2 separate regions of the Homo sapiens genome follow, and region 1 is linked to region 2. The links come from fine-mapping of genetic effects on gene expression. Tissue or cell type: skeletal muscle. Region 2 holds a variant in brackets; the other region holds the start of a gene. All regions are shown on one strand. Distances are from middle to middle.

Region 1 (8,083 bases), 440 kb after region 2:
CAAGTTAAGGGGCCCACGTGGCACCCTATGGCCCCACAGACCGTCTTCTACCCAGATGCCCAGTTCTAATGCTGAGTCCCTGGCCCAGACCAAGGGCACCTGACAAAACTGTTGTCCTTCGGGAGTCTTCTGGCCCCCACACCAGGAATGAGAGCTCTAGGTTGTTGGAAAGTTCACTACCAAGCCTGTCCACTGTCTCTGTAGAATTCCATTCTCAGCATCTGTCCCCACAGGTGTGGAGAAGAGCACTTCGCCACCCTCCTCCCTTGGACCCGTCTGTCCCCATAAGCAAGGGCCAGGACTAGGATGAGGACAGAGAGCCACGTAGGGCACAAATGAAGGGCACAAACAGCAAGTACACAGCCCTGAGGGTGACAGCCTCCTTCCCTTTGTGCCTTGGGTCCCTCTCTGGCCTCACTCTAGTCCCTGCTCTGCCTCTACTCCCCAGCATACTCCAGCCCCCTATGCCTCAGCCCTGCAACCCCCTCCTACCTTAAGTATGGACCCTTCTCTTGCCACCTCTGGGTGCAATGTGGGGAGCAGCTGGGGACTGGGAGGATGAAGCCTGAAAGGCCTGAGGCTTGGAACCAGTAGGAAGGCCTGGGCAGGGTTTGGGAAAGAACTGGCAAAATTTCATACAGATGAGGTCAGGTGGTGGGGACAAGGGATAATGCTGGACTGGGCACCAGCGTGCGTGTGACACTGTTAACATGATAGGGGGAGACTGCTTGGGGAAAATAGTTGCTTTGGGAAACACCAGAGGAAGATACCTCTCAAGCACTAAATGGAGGCCAAGCAAGGTGGCTCATGCCTGTAATCCCAGCACTTTGGGAGGTCAAGGTGGGCAGATTACTTGAGGCCAAGAGTTCAAGACCATCCTGGCCAAATTGGTGGAACCCCATCTCTACTAAAAATACAAAAATTAGCTGGGTGCGGTATGCATTCCTGTAATCCCAGCTACTTGGGAGGCTGAGGCACGAGAACCCCCTTGAACCCAGGAGGCAGAGGTTGCAGTGAGCTGTAATTGCACCACTGCACTCCAGCCTGGGTGACAGAGCGAGACTCTTTCCTTAAAAAAAAAAAAAAAAAAAAAAAAAGCACTAGATGGAGAGAGATTGAGATCATCAGTTTTCAAGGGTGCTGGGGGTGTAGGCCAGCACTGAGCCAGGGAGCAAAGCCCCAGAAGTCTGGAAGGCACTCTGGGAGCAGGAAGAAGGCCAGGAGAAGGTGGGCCCTGAAGGCCAAGATTGGGGGGATTCAAGAATGTGGGGACAGTTTCCAGTGTTAAAAATAACAGGGCCAGGTAACACTGGGGTTGGAGAGTGTGCTGCGGATTTAGGAGCTGGTCTCGAGACATCACCAATGTCTATGTCAGAATGGTTTCAGAAAAGTGGTACAAGTGCCGGATGCGGTGGCTCACACCTGTAATGCCAGCACTTTGGGAGGCCAAGGCAGGCAAATCACTTGAGGTCAGGAGTTCGAGACCAGCCTGGCCAACGTGGTGAAACCCCGTCTCTACTAAAAATACAAAAAATTAGCTGGGCGTGGTGGTGCGCGCCTGTAATCCCCTACTCAGGAGGCTGAGGTGGGAGAATCACTGGAACCCGGGAGGCAGAAGTTGCAGTAAGCCGAGATCATGCCACTGCACTCCAGCCTGGAAGACAGAGCGAGACTACATCAAAAAAAAAAAAAAAAAAAACAGGTTGGCGCGGTGGCTTACGCTTGTAATCCTAGCACTTAGGGAGGTCCAAGACAGGTGGATCCCCTAAGATCAGGAGTTCGAGACCAGCCTGACCAACAGGGCGAAACCCTGCCTCTACTAAAAATACAAAAAAATTAGCTGGGTGTGGTGGTGCATGCCTGTAATCCCAGCTACTCAGGAGGCTGAGGCGGGAGAATGGCTTGAACCCAGGAGGTGGAGGTTGCAGTGAGCCAAGATCGCACCACTGCACTCCAGCATAGGTGACAGAGCAAGACTCCCTCTCAAACAAATAAACAAAACAGAACAAAAAAAGTGGTACAAAACAAAGGCAGTCCACAAGGCTAGAGGAGTGCAGAGAAAGACATGGCAGAGTTCCTGCTAAAAGAGAAGACAGTTATTTAAGGAGGTTTGAGATTCAAGGGCTTTTTTAATTTTAAAATTAACCATGGTAGAAACCTGTGTGTTAATATGCTGAGGGAAGTTGCCAATAGTGAGATGAAAGATCTAGGCAAGGGGATAGCAAGGTGACTGCACCAGATACCTGGATCTGGGCAGGAATAAACCTCAACAGTGATCATGTTGACCTTGAGTGACAGGGTATAATGTTTGGGAAGGTGCTTTGTAAACTATAAGGGGCAATACAAACATGTAGTACACCTTCTCTGAGATCCGGGAAAGGACAACCTGAGCATAGGTTGGGGCTGGTCATAGGCCACTCTCCCCTACTGTTTCTCTAGAGTGTGTGTAGTCCCTAGCAAGTCTCAGATGCCTCGAGTCGTGGATGGAAACAAGGTCCCAGGACCATTGTCCTGAGCCTCCTTTCTCCGTGCTCTACCTGGGGAATGCTTGACTATCAACCCACAGAAGCTCTCTCTGGAGCCTCACTGCCTAAAGAGCTTCTTGTCGTAATTGTAACCTGTCATGGTTAACCCCTTGCAAGCATGCCCTGCCCCTTGTCTCTCCCAAGCTTTGGCTGCTGCAGCTTCTTTCCACAAAATCCCAGCAGATAGCCGGGCGTCGTGGTGCGTGTCTGTAATCCCAGCTACTCGGGAGGCTGAGGCATGAGAATCGCTTGAACCCAGGAGGTGGAGGTTGCAGTGATATTGCGCCACTGCACTCCAGCAGCCTGGGCAACGGAGTGAGATACCCCCTCAAAAAAAAAAAAAAAAAAATCCCAGCAGGACACCGGCAGGACAAGGAAGGGGATGTTTCCCTGGTAAGCAGGAACTGAACTGAGAGGAAAGGTCACGGTCCTGAACTAGTCCAGGTAACTGAGCATGGTCTGCAAAGGCAGCCTCCTGGCATCAGTGCACCACCCTGAGATGACAGCCTGTTGCCTGACTGCCTCGATCTCTGTCACCTCAGCCCTCAGTGCCTGGGGCATTATACACAGTATTAGCGTCATGAGGGGGCCAAACGGACTCTACCTGACAGTTACATGTACAGGTACCTCCAACCCACCCCTCAACCTGTGTCTCTCCCAAAGCTAGGAACACTTGGGGTCTCAGAGGCCCCAACCCCAGCCCATTCTATCTCCTAAAAATCTCTAGCCAGCCCCTCCATCCAGCACCCCTGCTGGGGGCTCCTCAATGGACTTTCTTCTCCTGCACTCCCTCCCCCAGGCAGCTGCCAGGGGATTCCTTCTAAAGGGCAAAGCTGATCTTGCCCCTGCTCTGTCCAAATCCTTCCATGAGCAAGACCAAGTGCAGTAGACAGAGTTCTGGCAGCATCAGCTCCAAGTGTAAATCCCAGCTTGACTGATTAGGGGTGCAACCTCATGCAGGTTATTTCACCTCGGGTTCTCACACCTACATTGCAGGCATTTTAAGAAGTAAATGTATGATGGGTGAAATGCCTGGTATTCCTCTTGGTCCCCAGAACCAGAGCAGAGCTTGCAGCAGGGTCCCCAAGGACTCTCCTGATGCCCCTCCTCTATCTACCCTGACCTGAGCCCCTCTCTACTTCACACACAAGCTCTTGCCAGCTCTCTGTGCCCATCCTACATGCTTCTAGACCAGTTCAAAGGCTGGCCTCAGGACAGCATCCCTGATCTCCACCCCCCAGAGGGGGCATCTTGGAGCACTTGGCTGAGGACACCCCAGGGAGATTTCACTCTGAGGCCTCCCCAGGGCTGGCCTATAGGTTTCCCAGGAGCACAGAGGGCAGAGTCCTGGGGGTCTCTGGGCCCTGCACCAAGGAAATGCAGGGCAAATGCCTGTGGGAATGCTAGTTATGGGCAATGCAAAGAGGCAGTGAATCCGGGCAGGGAGAGCAGGAGGGGTTTCCAGGAAGCAGGACTGAGGGAGGAAAGGGATCTGGGGGCACTGCAGGGCTTTTGGGGTGCAGAGATATCCAGAACTTCTTGGTTGGGATGAGTGAGGGGAGATCCGTCTTCCCTCGGTGGCCTAAGCACTGGCAGCGGAATGGGCCCATCACCTAGCTACTGGCTCTGATGAAGCCAGTGTTTCAGGACTGAGGGGGCCGAGAGCGCCCCCTCCACCCCGAGCACACACACGCGCGCACACACGAGCTTCTGCTGGGGGTGGGAGGGGGGGTCGCCATTCACCAGCAGCCCACGGCCCGCAGAGCCAACTGATAGAGACCCCAGCCACAGGCCACAGGACCTGGGAGTCCCTGCGATGGGGGAAACCCCGCCCGCACCTCCCCAGGCTCCCCACCAACGCGTGTGGCCCCGGGGGGCGGGGCGCAGAGGGAAGAGGTGACATAATCCGAGCCGCACCCCCTCTGGCCGCCACCTCCCCCCAGGCCGGGCGAAGCATCCATGACATCATCCGCCTCCTCTCCGCTCCCCTCCCCCTTGGGACCCTAGCAGCGGGACGCGCCCCCTACCCAGTCCGGGTCAGGTCAGACATGCCGCGCAGTGCAGCAGGCACGGCGGCAGGTCGGAGCCGGGAGGGATGCCACGATGGGCCTGCCTCACTTACTCGCTGCCTCAGGGTCCGGCGCGGGGTCTCCGACACGGGCGCCACCGGCCCCGCTTGCTGGCGCAGCCCGAAGCACGCCCGGCGGGGCGCGCTGCGCGGGCCCGGCTCCGCTCCGCGCCCCTCCTGCTCCCCGCCCGAGCCCCGCCCACCAGCGGCTGCGGCAAACGCGAGCCCGCCCTCCGGCCACGCCCCCCAGGGCAGCCAATGCCCGGGCTGGGGCGGGGTGAGGCGCCTTAACCCCTTCGTCGCTGCGCCCCGCCCGCGCGTGGGACCCCTCAGCCTCACCCTCTCTAGGGCGCAGCAAGTCCGCCGCGAGCCCCTCTGCTCATCGCTCGTTACCCCCCAGGCCCTTGGGCTTGGGCTCAGGCCCAGTCGTTCCTCTGCAACAAATCCAATGGAACCGCGCCCTCCCTGAATCCCACGTCTAGGAAGAGGAGGAGGAGCCCCTCTTGCTTGGGGGAAGGGGCTCCCGACTCGGAGCCCCGAGCCCCATTCCTCTCCCGCGCCAGCTCTTCGGGACGCGGCCTCCCAGCGGACGCCCTGAGACCTTGCAAGTCCGCTAGGGAGGGGTCGGGACGAGCCGTCGCGGGTGGATCCGCCCGGCCGAGCAACGACCCGCCCGGGCGCGAGGACCACGGGCTGTCGTGCGGGAGGCGTCGAGGGGCAGTAAACTCCGTTCGTGACCAAACGGAGACGATTTGAAACTTGCTGCTCACACTGGATCACCGTCTGGAAGGTGCGACGGGGAAAAAATACACATTACACTCCAGCAGGATTGAACGCTTTCACCCTGTGCCCCGCGCCTGGCGTAACGCGTGGCCCCAGACCACACGCTGTAACCCGGGGTGAGAGGGAGTGAGGTGGGACTTCGTACCGGACCCGGAGCGCCGGCCTCGCCCGCGCGGGCAGCGTTCACTGTGGGGAGTGCTCACTCAGCCTAGGGCGGCCCGGGAGGACTGCCGGGAGGAGGGAGTCGGCCTTGAATTGAGGCCTCAGCCTTGAATAGGGTAGGGAGGCAAGCCTAGCCGAGAGTTTAGCACTAGCAAAAGCCTGGAGGCACCAGGGTCTGCCCTAAGAACTGCAGCGCCTCTGCTCTGGCTGGGATTTAACGCATTACGTCTCTGCTGTTTATAGGTGTTGTGTTTGGTCTTACGACTTCGTATTCTATAGTTTTTATTTATTCCTGTTTTCTGAATTTTCCCACATTTGCTTTTATCTTCTATCGTGATTTTCAAGGCAGAAAGTATTTTTAATTCTTCTCGCGGCTGCCTTTAGATTTATCAAATGAAAATAGTTTACATTTCACACATTAGTAAAGTCAGTGACAAATAATTCGTTTTTATATTCCCCCATGAGAAATTTTGTGTGCTTTTCTGCCTCCTACCTGCCGCCCTCACTACTTATATTTGTCCACTTAATCAGGACGACAGACCTAACTTTTGTTTACACTTTTTTTTTAAGCCACAACATTCTTTTTCAATCCTTGTTTTTGGCTTTTGCCAACTCTGTTTAATTGGTTTCAATGTTACTGCCGGTTTTTTGTGCTCTAATTTTTCTATTCCTCATTTGGACCCATCTCTCACATGACTGGTGATTTCAGGGAGGACTCTGGAATGTTGTATTTCCTAAGCCTTTGCCTTAGGTGAGAATGCCTTTATAATGATTTCCTGTTTATAGGATTCTTGAGTCTCAAGCTTTCCCCCTCAAAACTCTTGTCTTTATTTCATTGTCTTCTGGCACTGAAAATGCAAAGCTGGGTTTGTCTGTTTAAGGTCAGCAGTTTGCTTGGTGCTTGCAAGGGTTTTTCTTTACCCTCAAAAGTCAAACATTTTGCCAGTATAAATCAATATGGGCCTTATCTATTAATTTTCCAGAAACAAAAGAGGTCTTCTTTGTAGCTTAGAAAAGTTTTCTTCCTGTCCATTCTGTGAAAAGATTTGGGTTTTTTTCTTTCCTCTCCTCTAAAACTATCACATTGGATCACCAATGTCAAATAAATCTGTTTGTTTTCTCTGCACCCTGGGAGACTATATCAAGTTTTTCTTCACCATTACGGATTTAATTTTCTTCAGAGCCAAGAGTACTGTTTATTTTCTCCAATAAGACATTTGATTCTGCTTGTTTTATTTTTCTTTCAGCCAATTTCCATTCCACCTCTGTCTTGATCTCAACTTAATCTCTCTTTGTAGTCTCCATTCCTATTTCATAGACTAATGTGGTTTTGCATCTTTAAAAGAACACCAGGAAAATAAGAGAATACTATCTATATCTGACTCTGGTCCAATGCATATGAAAACTTTTTTGTTTTTTTGAGACAGAGTCTCACTTAAAATTTACACAAACTCTAGCATAGTGTGTAACTATTGAATGAATAACTAATGCAATCCCCTTCCTTTCTTTCAGAGCAACTATGAACTAGACTTTTTTTTTTTTTTTTTTTTTTTTTTTTTCTGAAATGGAGTCTCCCTCTGGAATGCAATGGTGCAATCTCAGCCCACTGCAACGTTCGCCTCCTGGGTTCAAGCAATTCTCCTGCCTCAGCCTCCTGAGTAGCTGGGATTACAGGCATGTGCCACCACCACGCCGGGCTAATTTTTGTATTTTTAGTAGAGACGGGGTTTCATTATGTTGGTCAGGCTGGTCTCGAACTCCTGACCTTGAGATCCGCCCGCCTCGGCCTCCCAAAGTGCTGAGATTAGACTATTTGTATCTAGGTTCATCAGTTCAGTGAACTAATCAATACTTTGTTTTGTTTTGTTTTGTTGTTGCTTAAGATGATTTGTCACCTGCTGATTAATGATCACACAAGTTGTTTTTTTTTGAGAGAGTCTTGCTCTGTCACCCAGGCTGGAGTGCAGTGGCATGATCTTGGCTCCCTGCAACCTCCGCCTCCCGGGTTTAAGTGCTTCTTTTGCCTCAGTCTCAGTAGCTGGCATTACAGGCGTGCACCATTACACCCAGCTAATTTTTTGTATTTTTAGTAGAGACAGTGTTTCGCCATGTTGGCCAGGCTGGTCTCGAATTCCTGGCCTCAAGTGATCCACCCTCCTCCACCTTCCAAAGTGCTGGGATTACAGAACTGAGCCACCGTGCCCGGCCCTGAAAACCTTGATAAAGGGGCTCATTTTCTGGGAAATAAAATTACAAGGATAACAAAGATATTAAAAACATCATCCAAGAAATATGTCCAAAAAAGGTTCTGGTGGCCGGCATCGTTGCTCACGCCTATAATCTCAACACTTTAGGAGGCCGAGGCAGGAGGATGGCTTGAGCCCAGGAGTTCAAGACCAGCCTGGACAACATAGGGAGACCCTGTCTCTACAAAAAAATTTAAAAATTGGGCTGGGCATGGTGGCTTACACCTGTAATCCCAGCACTTTGGGAGACCAAGGCAGGTGGATCACCTGAAGTCAGGAGTTTGAGACCAGCCTGGCCA
Region 2 (8,102 bases):
ACACATGCTTATAATTGTTATTTCTTTCTGATGATAGACACTTTTATCATTATAACATGTCCTTCTTTGTCTCTCATAATTTTTATCTTAGTGTCTATTCATAAATTAGTATAGCCACTCCAGCTATCTTTCAGTTAGGGTTCACATGTTATCTCTTTTTCCATCCCTTTATTTTCAAAGCCTTTTGTACATTTGAATTTAAAGTATGTCTCACATAGACAGCATATAGTTGGATTGTGTTGTAGTTTTCTTTTTTAATCCATTCTGCCAATCTCTTCCTTTTAATGAAGCATTTCATCCATTTATATTTAATGTAATTGCTGATAGAACAGGATTTATGTCTGCCATTGTGCTTTGTGTTTTCTTTTTCTTTTATTTTTTCTTTTTCTTATTTTTTTTTGAGACGGAATTATAAAGAGTTCCCATATATCCCCTATCCCCACAAATGTGCAGTTGTCTTTTAAATTAGATAGGAAAACAAAATCATTACAAACAAAAATACATTTATGCTGTCTTTTATGTTTACCTATGTAGTGACTTTTACCAGTGCTCTTTATCTGTTCATGTTAATTCATATTACTGTCTTGTCTTGTTTCATTTCAGACTGAAGGACTCCCTTTAGTATTTCTTGTAGGACAAACCTGTTAGTGATGAATCCTCTCAGTTTTTGTTTATCTGAAAATGTCTCAATTTCTCCTTCATTTTTGAAGTTGATCATTTTAGAAGTTGATAGTTTTGCTGGACATGCAATTTTTTGGTCGATAGTTGTTTTCTTTTAACACAATATATCATCTCACTGCCTTCTGTCCTTCATGGTTTCAGAAGTTATGTGGTGATCTTATTAAGGATTCCTTATATATGACGAGTTACTTCTCTCTCTCTCTCATTGCTTCTCAGATCCTTTCTTTTTCTTTGGCTTTCAAAAGTTTGAGTATGATGTGTCTTTGTATAGATCATACACTTTGTGTTCATACTACTTGGAGTTTACTGAGCTTCTTAAGATGTGCTCAATAATGTTTTTCATTACTGAGCACATTTAGGAAATTTAGGGGCATTTTCTTGAATATTTTTCTGTCCTGTTCCATCTCTACTCTCCTTCTCAGATTCCCATTATACATATACTGGTATGCTTGATGGCTCCCACAGGTCTCTTAAGCTCTGTTCATTTTTCTTCATTCTTTTTTCTTTCTGCTTCTGAGCTAGATAATCTCAATTGGCCTATATTCAAGTATACTGATTTTTTTTCGTCCCACCAAATGAGATATGTTGTTGAGTTCCTCTAGGTCAGGGGTGTCCAATCTTTTGGCTTCCGTGGGCCATATTGGAAGAAGACTTGTCTTGAGCCACACATAAAATACATTAATACTAGCGATAGCTGATGAGAAAAAAAAAAAAAAAGCAAAAACATCTCATAATAAGAAAGTTTACAAATTTGCAGGCTAATTCAAAGCCAACCTGGGCTGCATGTGCCCCGTGGGTCGCAGGTTAGAGAAGCTTGTTCCAGGTATTTTTAAATTTTACTTATTGTTCTTTTCTACTTCAGAATTTCATGGGTTTTTAAAAATATAATTTGAAATCCTTTATTGATTTTTTTGGTGTGACTTCATTCTCATACTTTTCTTGAATTTTTTAGACATAGTTTCCTTTAGTTCTATGAACATATTTATAATTGCTCATTTAAAGTCTTTATCTATGCCAGCTGCAGTGGCTCACTCCTATAATCCCAGCATTTTGGTAGGCAGAGAAGGGCAGATTGCTTGAGCCTAGGAGTTTGAGACCAGCCTGGGCAACATGGTGAAACCCTGTCTCTACAAAAACCTACAAAAATTAGCTGGGCATGGTGGCTCATACCTGTAGTCCCAGCTACTTGGGAACTAAGGTGGGAGGATCACTTGAACCTGGGAGGTCAAGGCTTCAGTGAGCCATGATCACACCACTGCACTTCAGCCTGGGCAACAGAGCAAGACCCTGTTCCAAAAATAAATTAATTAATAAAGTATTTGTCTAAAAATTCTAACCTCTGGGCTTCCTCAGGGATAGTTCCTGTTGGCTGCTTTATTACAATGTATGGGTCTTACTTTCCTGTACCTTGCATGTCTCATAATTGTTTGTTGAAAACTGGACATTTTAATCATATAATGTTGCACTCTGGCAATCAGATCCTCCCTCCCAATTTTGTTCTTATTGCTATTGCTGTTTGTTTGTTTAGTGATTTTCTTGGACTAATTATATAAAGTCTATATTTCCTGTCATGTATAATCACTGAAGTTTCTGCTCTTGGCTTAGTTATCAGGCCATGATTGGACAGGCATTTCTTTAAATGCCTTGAATGCCAATAAGTGTTCAACCCATTGCCAAAAGGTTCTGTATGTGTGTTAAGACATGCCTTCAGTGCTCCAGCGATTTACAACTCTGCCTTGACCTTCACTTCCTGCTTGCTCAGGGCCTTGGGATAAACCAGAGGTGAGAGACCAGGGGCTTTCCATGCCTTTTTTGGGCATGTGCCTCTCCCTGCACATATGCATAGCTTTCTAGATCTCCAGGAATATGTCAGAGCTTTTCAGAGCCCCTGTGAACATCTTATTCCCCACTTTTTCCTTTAAAATATTATGGCCAAACTTTTATTTGCCCCCAACTTGTATTGCTGCCTCATGTAGCTGCAATGTTAAGCAATTGCCGCTGGCTGTTTTCAACAAACACCCTGAAGATAGGGTCTTTCCCACTAAGTAAGTTCTGAATCGGGTCAAATAACAAGTTCTGCAAATAAAGCTGTCAGGGAGTTGCTAGAAAGGTTAAAGAGTGAAAACTGACTGGGAATACAGCTTGTTGAGAGGCTCCAAACCCACTCTACCCCTTCCTATGGTTGCTAGCTTGCTAGTTTTCACAACTACAATAGTGGTTGCAAGGTAGCTGGTCTTCAACAGGGCTGGGGAGTAGGGGATGGGAATAGGGCAAATTAAAACACCACAAAGCTTTCTGTTCTTATTACAACTCAGCCATTTTTCTTGCCTCAATGTTCCTTGAGTTGTTGCACACATGTTGTTAATTTTTAGAGTTCTGAGAAAGTTGATTTTGACCATGTTTGCCAGTGTTCTTGTTTCTTTATGGAAGAATGGATTTTCAGAGGTCTTTACTTAGCAATTCCCAAAGTCCTGTCCCTGTAATTGTTATTTCTTACCTGGGCACAAGTTAAAAGTGCCTTGGGGGCTTTAGTCCAGCATTCATCCAGTCACAGTAATTTTTGACTCTTGAATTCTATCATGAATCAATCAGCACCTGTTGTGGGGCTGGGACTATGATGGATGCTTGGGAGAAGAGAGGCTTAAACAATGATCCCTGCCCTCTGAGAGCTTACAGAGCAGTTGAGGAGACAAATATAATTATGTAAACAACAATTTATAATTTTGAAAAAAATTCGTGTACTTGAAGAAAGGTCAGTAGAGATTATCTATAATTACATAATAATAAGAAGAAATAGAAAACAATGTAAGGCTTGAAGACCACACTATCCAATAGTACTTTCTGCAATGATGAAAATATTCTGTACCAACCAATATGGTAGCCAATAGCCACACATATTTATTGGGCACTTGAACTGTAGCTACCGTGACTGAGGAATTGAATATTTAATTGTGTTTAATTTAAATCAAATTTAAGAAATAACACATGGTTACTGTATCTGACATCACAGCTCTAAGACTTTAAATATTTGCTTGATTGGCCAGGATGACCCTGTGGCAGGGGTAGGGAAACATACCCTCCCATGGGAGGCTCATAGCTCTTCTCTGGCTCCTAGGGATAGATAGAAGCTGGGGGCTATGGATACTCCCTGGCATTTAATTGTGCCTGCTGCCTGGTGGGTGTTGTTCAGTGACACTATTGGAATAGTTTAGGTCCGAGCCACCTGGCAAAGGTAAGCTCTGGTCTACTCTATTGGGGGCAAATTTAGACCCTAGATCAGGCACATTATAAGTGCAATTAGATGAAAGGGGCTGTGGGAACTGCAAAAGAATCAGCCCCCTTCCTAATCCACTGGTCAATGCAACATTCCCTGTTTTCCTCTACAGCCACAAAACTAGCCCAATGTCATCCATCTCCTTCCACGCTTTCCAGCAGGATCTCCCACACTCATGCTGCAAGCACAGACTTCTGTCCAGATCCATTCTGGCAATCCCCCTTGAGGTTCCAGAACCTCCCTGCTGGGTCAGTGCTGAGGTGAGACTAAGGTTTCCCTCTTGCCACCTGAATGCACTGCACTTCCTTCCCCATTCCCCCCAACCCCCACCACTCTTTTCAGAGCTGAGAGCATTTGAGAGAGGGAGAAGCAGAGGGGGTTCAAGAGAGATTCGCTCATGTGCTCCGAAGGTCATATAGGCTGAGATGCCAGTCATAAGGACAAAGGACCCCTAATGAAGAGGAAGGACTTATGAGGAGACCTCTGGGCAGCCGAAGCCAAGCTTAGGGCCAGACTGGCCTCCATGCTGAGACAGGAGCAGAGATTTGGACAGTGCCTCCATAGAAAATTGGGGGAAGAGGACCGGGCGCGGTGGCTCACGCTTGTAATCCCAGCACTTTGGGAGGCCAAGGTGGGCAGATCACAAGGTCAGGAGATGGAGACCATCCTGGCTAACACGGTGAAACCCCGTCTCTACTAAAAATACCAAAAAATTAGCCGGGCGTGGTGGCGGGCGCCTGTAGTCCCAGCTACTCGGGAGGCTGAGGCAGGAGAATGGCGTGAACCCGGGAGGCGGAGCTTGCAGTGAGCCGAGATCGC[G/A]CCACTGCACTCCAGCTTGGGTAACAGGAGCGAAACTCCGTCTCAAAAAAAAAAAAAAAGAAAAGAAAAGAAGATTGGGGGAAGAGGGGGACCGCAGGCATGAGGCAGCCTGGGAACCATAATAGGTGGAGTGGAGGCGGCTAGTGAGTGAACCGCCTGCAACTTGAATAATAAGCTTTCTCCACAAAGTGGAGAGTTATTGAGGGCTGGGGACTCAAGCCAACCTGGGATGTCTGGCTATGTAACTGGGAGCAAGTTCTCACCTCCCAGAGCTTCAGTTCCCTAATGTGTAAAATAGAGCTGACCAATGAGCCTCCTGTGATTCTGGGAAGGAGAGGATGCTGTGGAGTTAGTAGGATGTATTCATGCAGTGCCCAGCACAGTGACTGCCTCAGAGTCATTTCTTACCCTCCTGCCACCCCACCCTTACCGATCATCTTAGAGTAAGTGCAGCTGAGCCTGGACGGCAGCAAGAAAGTTCAGGCCGGGCGCAGTGGCTCACACCTGTAATCCCAGCACTTTGGGAGGCCGAGGTGGGCGGATCACTTAAGGTCGGGACTTTGAGACCAGCCTGGCCAACATGGTGAAACCCCGTCTCTACTAAAAATGTGAAAAAAAAAAAAAAAATGGCACCTGTAGTCCCAGCTACTCAGGAGGCTGAGGCAGGAGAATCACTTGAACCCAGGAGGCAGAGGTTGCAGTGAGCCGAGATCGCGCCATTGCACTCCAGCCTGGGCAACAGAGCGAGACTCCATTTCAAAAAAAAAAAAAAAAGTTCAGTGGGAACCAAGGAGGAACGTCCTGCCTCCAGAACCAGAGCCCACAGTCAGGGGTAGACATCCCAGGCTGGGGATGGGTCTTTCTCTGAATAGGAAGGGGGACATTCTCACTTAATCTTCTGTCTGTTCTCTCTGCCCTGGGTGCTTGGTGAATTGTAGAAGATGCCAGGCCTTGCTAATACCCGCTACCCACCTCTCACCTGATTCATAGATAAGAGGTGCCAAGGTCTCTGGTCTTAGAGCCTGGGTCTCATCTACACCACCACCTCTGCCCAAGGCCAGAGGAACCCACAACTTCTTTCCTTCAGACTCCCACCTTCTCCTTTAAATCTCTTTCTGACTTGCAAGCACCCCTTCCAGCTCTGTGGCTTCTGCTGCCGTCCATGCCCCATCCCCCCTCCTCCCTCCTTTTTCTCTATCTCTCCTTCTCTTCTGTTCGTGGACTCTGATAGCCTGCATTGACAGAAGACTCCCCAGGCTTGAGAGGACTTGTGTGGGTGCATGTGTACATCTGTGTCCACACAGGCACACCATGGTGACCATGCACCAGCCCCTTCCTGCCGCTGCATGTGGCATGCCCAGAGGCCTCCCATTAGTGGCCACTCCACCCTTCCTCCTCTCCCCTCAGGCCTGGTTTGGGGAAAGTGGAGCCACTGCCACTCTTGGTGGGCAGCTGGGGGCCCCTTAGCAGTCTCTCCACACCCCCTCCCCTTCTCCTCAGGCCCCATGCCCAGCCCTGAGGTTTGGAGAGCCTAGTAAGTGCCCTATCAACATGTTAATCAAATTACTTAGGAGCTAAAATTGACGCTGTTCATTAATTATACAAGATTATGCTAATTGTGCATGCAAATGCATGCAGGGGAACAGAAGGTGTTCAGGCGCATGGTGGGCCATTAGCATAGAGGATGGGGTGCGGGTGCATTGGCATGCTAATGTATGCGCCCTGGCTATTTATAGTCCTCCAGCCCATCTGCACTGCAGCCACCTCTACCCGGGTGGGGATCATGGTGGGGAGGCCAGGTCCAGGCCTGGCAGGTGGCTGTGGCCCTGGGGACAGTCTATCTTGGCTTCTACCGCAGGCTAAGACCAGGAAGCAGCCTGGGCCAACCCCACATGGGCCTGAACTATTACAGTAAGCTCCTCATTTCCCTTCCCTTCTCTAGCGTAGGCCCTTTGGTGCCTGTTTCTGCCTGAAGGGAGACATCCCCTGTAGCCTTCCCATCACCCAGAGGATCCAAGTCCCGCATGATTTGGTCCCAACCCCAGGCCCCAAGCCACGCTGCCCTCCTCAGTCTTGTCAGGCACCACTGATCGAGTGAGCCGTCTGCCCCGTGGTGGAGCTGTTAGTCCCTTTGCATGGAGGGCCCTGCCTCCTACTTCTCGGTGAGATCCTCCAAGACCCATCACCCAAGACCAAATTGGAGCTCTAGGAAGCATTCCGCCTCCCCTAGGCAAAATAAGTGGCCACTGCAGATTACACTTGGCACATCCTCCTGCCGTGCCCACCACTCTGTCTTCCTGAGTTTCTCTTTCCTGTTGGGTTGTAATTTCCTTAAGATTTTATACAATGCCGCAGTGCCTAACACATAGAAGGTATTTAATAAATCTTTTTAAGTGGGTGTATGGAATGAATGAGGGGATGAATGGCCCAGCCCTCTGTGTCCTCCTCTGTCCCTGAGCTGAGGGTAGAGAGAAGCAGACAGTGAACACGCTGGAGAGCCAGAAACTGCTTCAGTTTCTTCGGAGGCTCATGGGAGCCCAAGACAAATCTTTTAGGATAAAAATTAGCGGAGATCCCTGTCCCCTTATTTCCCCATCTCAGGCTGCAGTGCCAGCTTTGGGCTTGGAAACACATATCCAATTTAATCTACCCTTCACTCTTAACCTGCTGTCTTTCCCAAGGCCTTCACAGGACACACTGTTGTTTGGAACATCCTGCCCCAGCTCGTATATCCATTCACTGCATACCTTCTTTCTAGATCTGCACTGTCCAATATGGTAGTCTCGAGCCACATGTGACTATTTAGATTTATGTTCATTAAAATGGCTGGGCGCAGTGGCCCACGCCTGTAATTCCAGCACTTTGGGAGGCCAAGGCGGGTGGATCACCAGAGGTCAGGAGTTCATGACCAGCCTGACCAATATGGTGAAACGCTGTCTCTACTAAAAATACAAAAATTAGCTGGGCATGGTGGCAGTCGCCTTTAGTCCCAGCTACTCAGGAGGCTGAGGCGGGAGAATCGCTTGAACCCAGGAGGTGGAGGTTGCAGTGAGCCGAGATCACGCCACTGCACTCCAGCCTGGGCAACAGAGCGAGACTCCGTTTCAAAAAAAAAATAGATTTATGTTAATTAAAATGAAATAAAATTCAGTTCCTCAGTTGCACTAGCCACATTTCCAGTGCTTAGTAGCCATGCGTGGCTAATGCATATCATTCTGGAAAAAGTTCCCTTAGGGAGCACTGTAATCTAGACACGTTCTTCCTTGCCCCTGACAGACCTGTAGTGGAAAATGCACTCGGGCTCTCCTTCCAGCTCTTTGAGTTACTG

The links. PIP is the estimated chance that this variant, and not a neighbour inherited with it, causes the effect.
Region 1: it holds the start of LZTS3, and the variant in region 2 is fine-mapped to the expression of LZTS3 in skeletal muscle (GTEx, PIP 0.97).

The regions. Positions count from the first base shown.
Region 1 is chr20:3,168,808-3,176,890 of GRCh38, forward strand. It overlaps LZTS3 (leucine zipper tumor suppressor family member 3), which reads right to left and starts at 4,742. Exons shown (of 5, transcript NM_001365618.1): 1 at 4,648-4,742. LOC107985414 (a long non-coding RNA gene) reads left to right here and starts at 4,883. Exons shown (of 2, transcript XR_001754477.2): 1 at 4,883-5,383. RefSeq lists a silencer at 4,626-4,965.
Region 2 is chr20:2,732,433-2,740,534 of GRCh38, forward strand. All of the region lies in intron 6 of EBF4 (EBF family member 4), which reads left to right. Among named protein-coding and RNA genes, the nearest start is that of EBF4, 44 kb to the left of the region's middle. RefSeq lists an enhancer at 6,130-6,711. The variant G/A (reference allele first, on the strand shown) is at 4,775.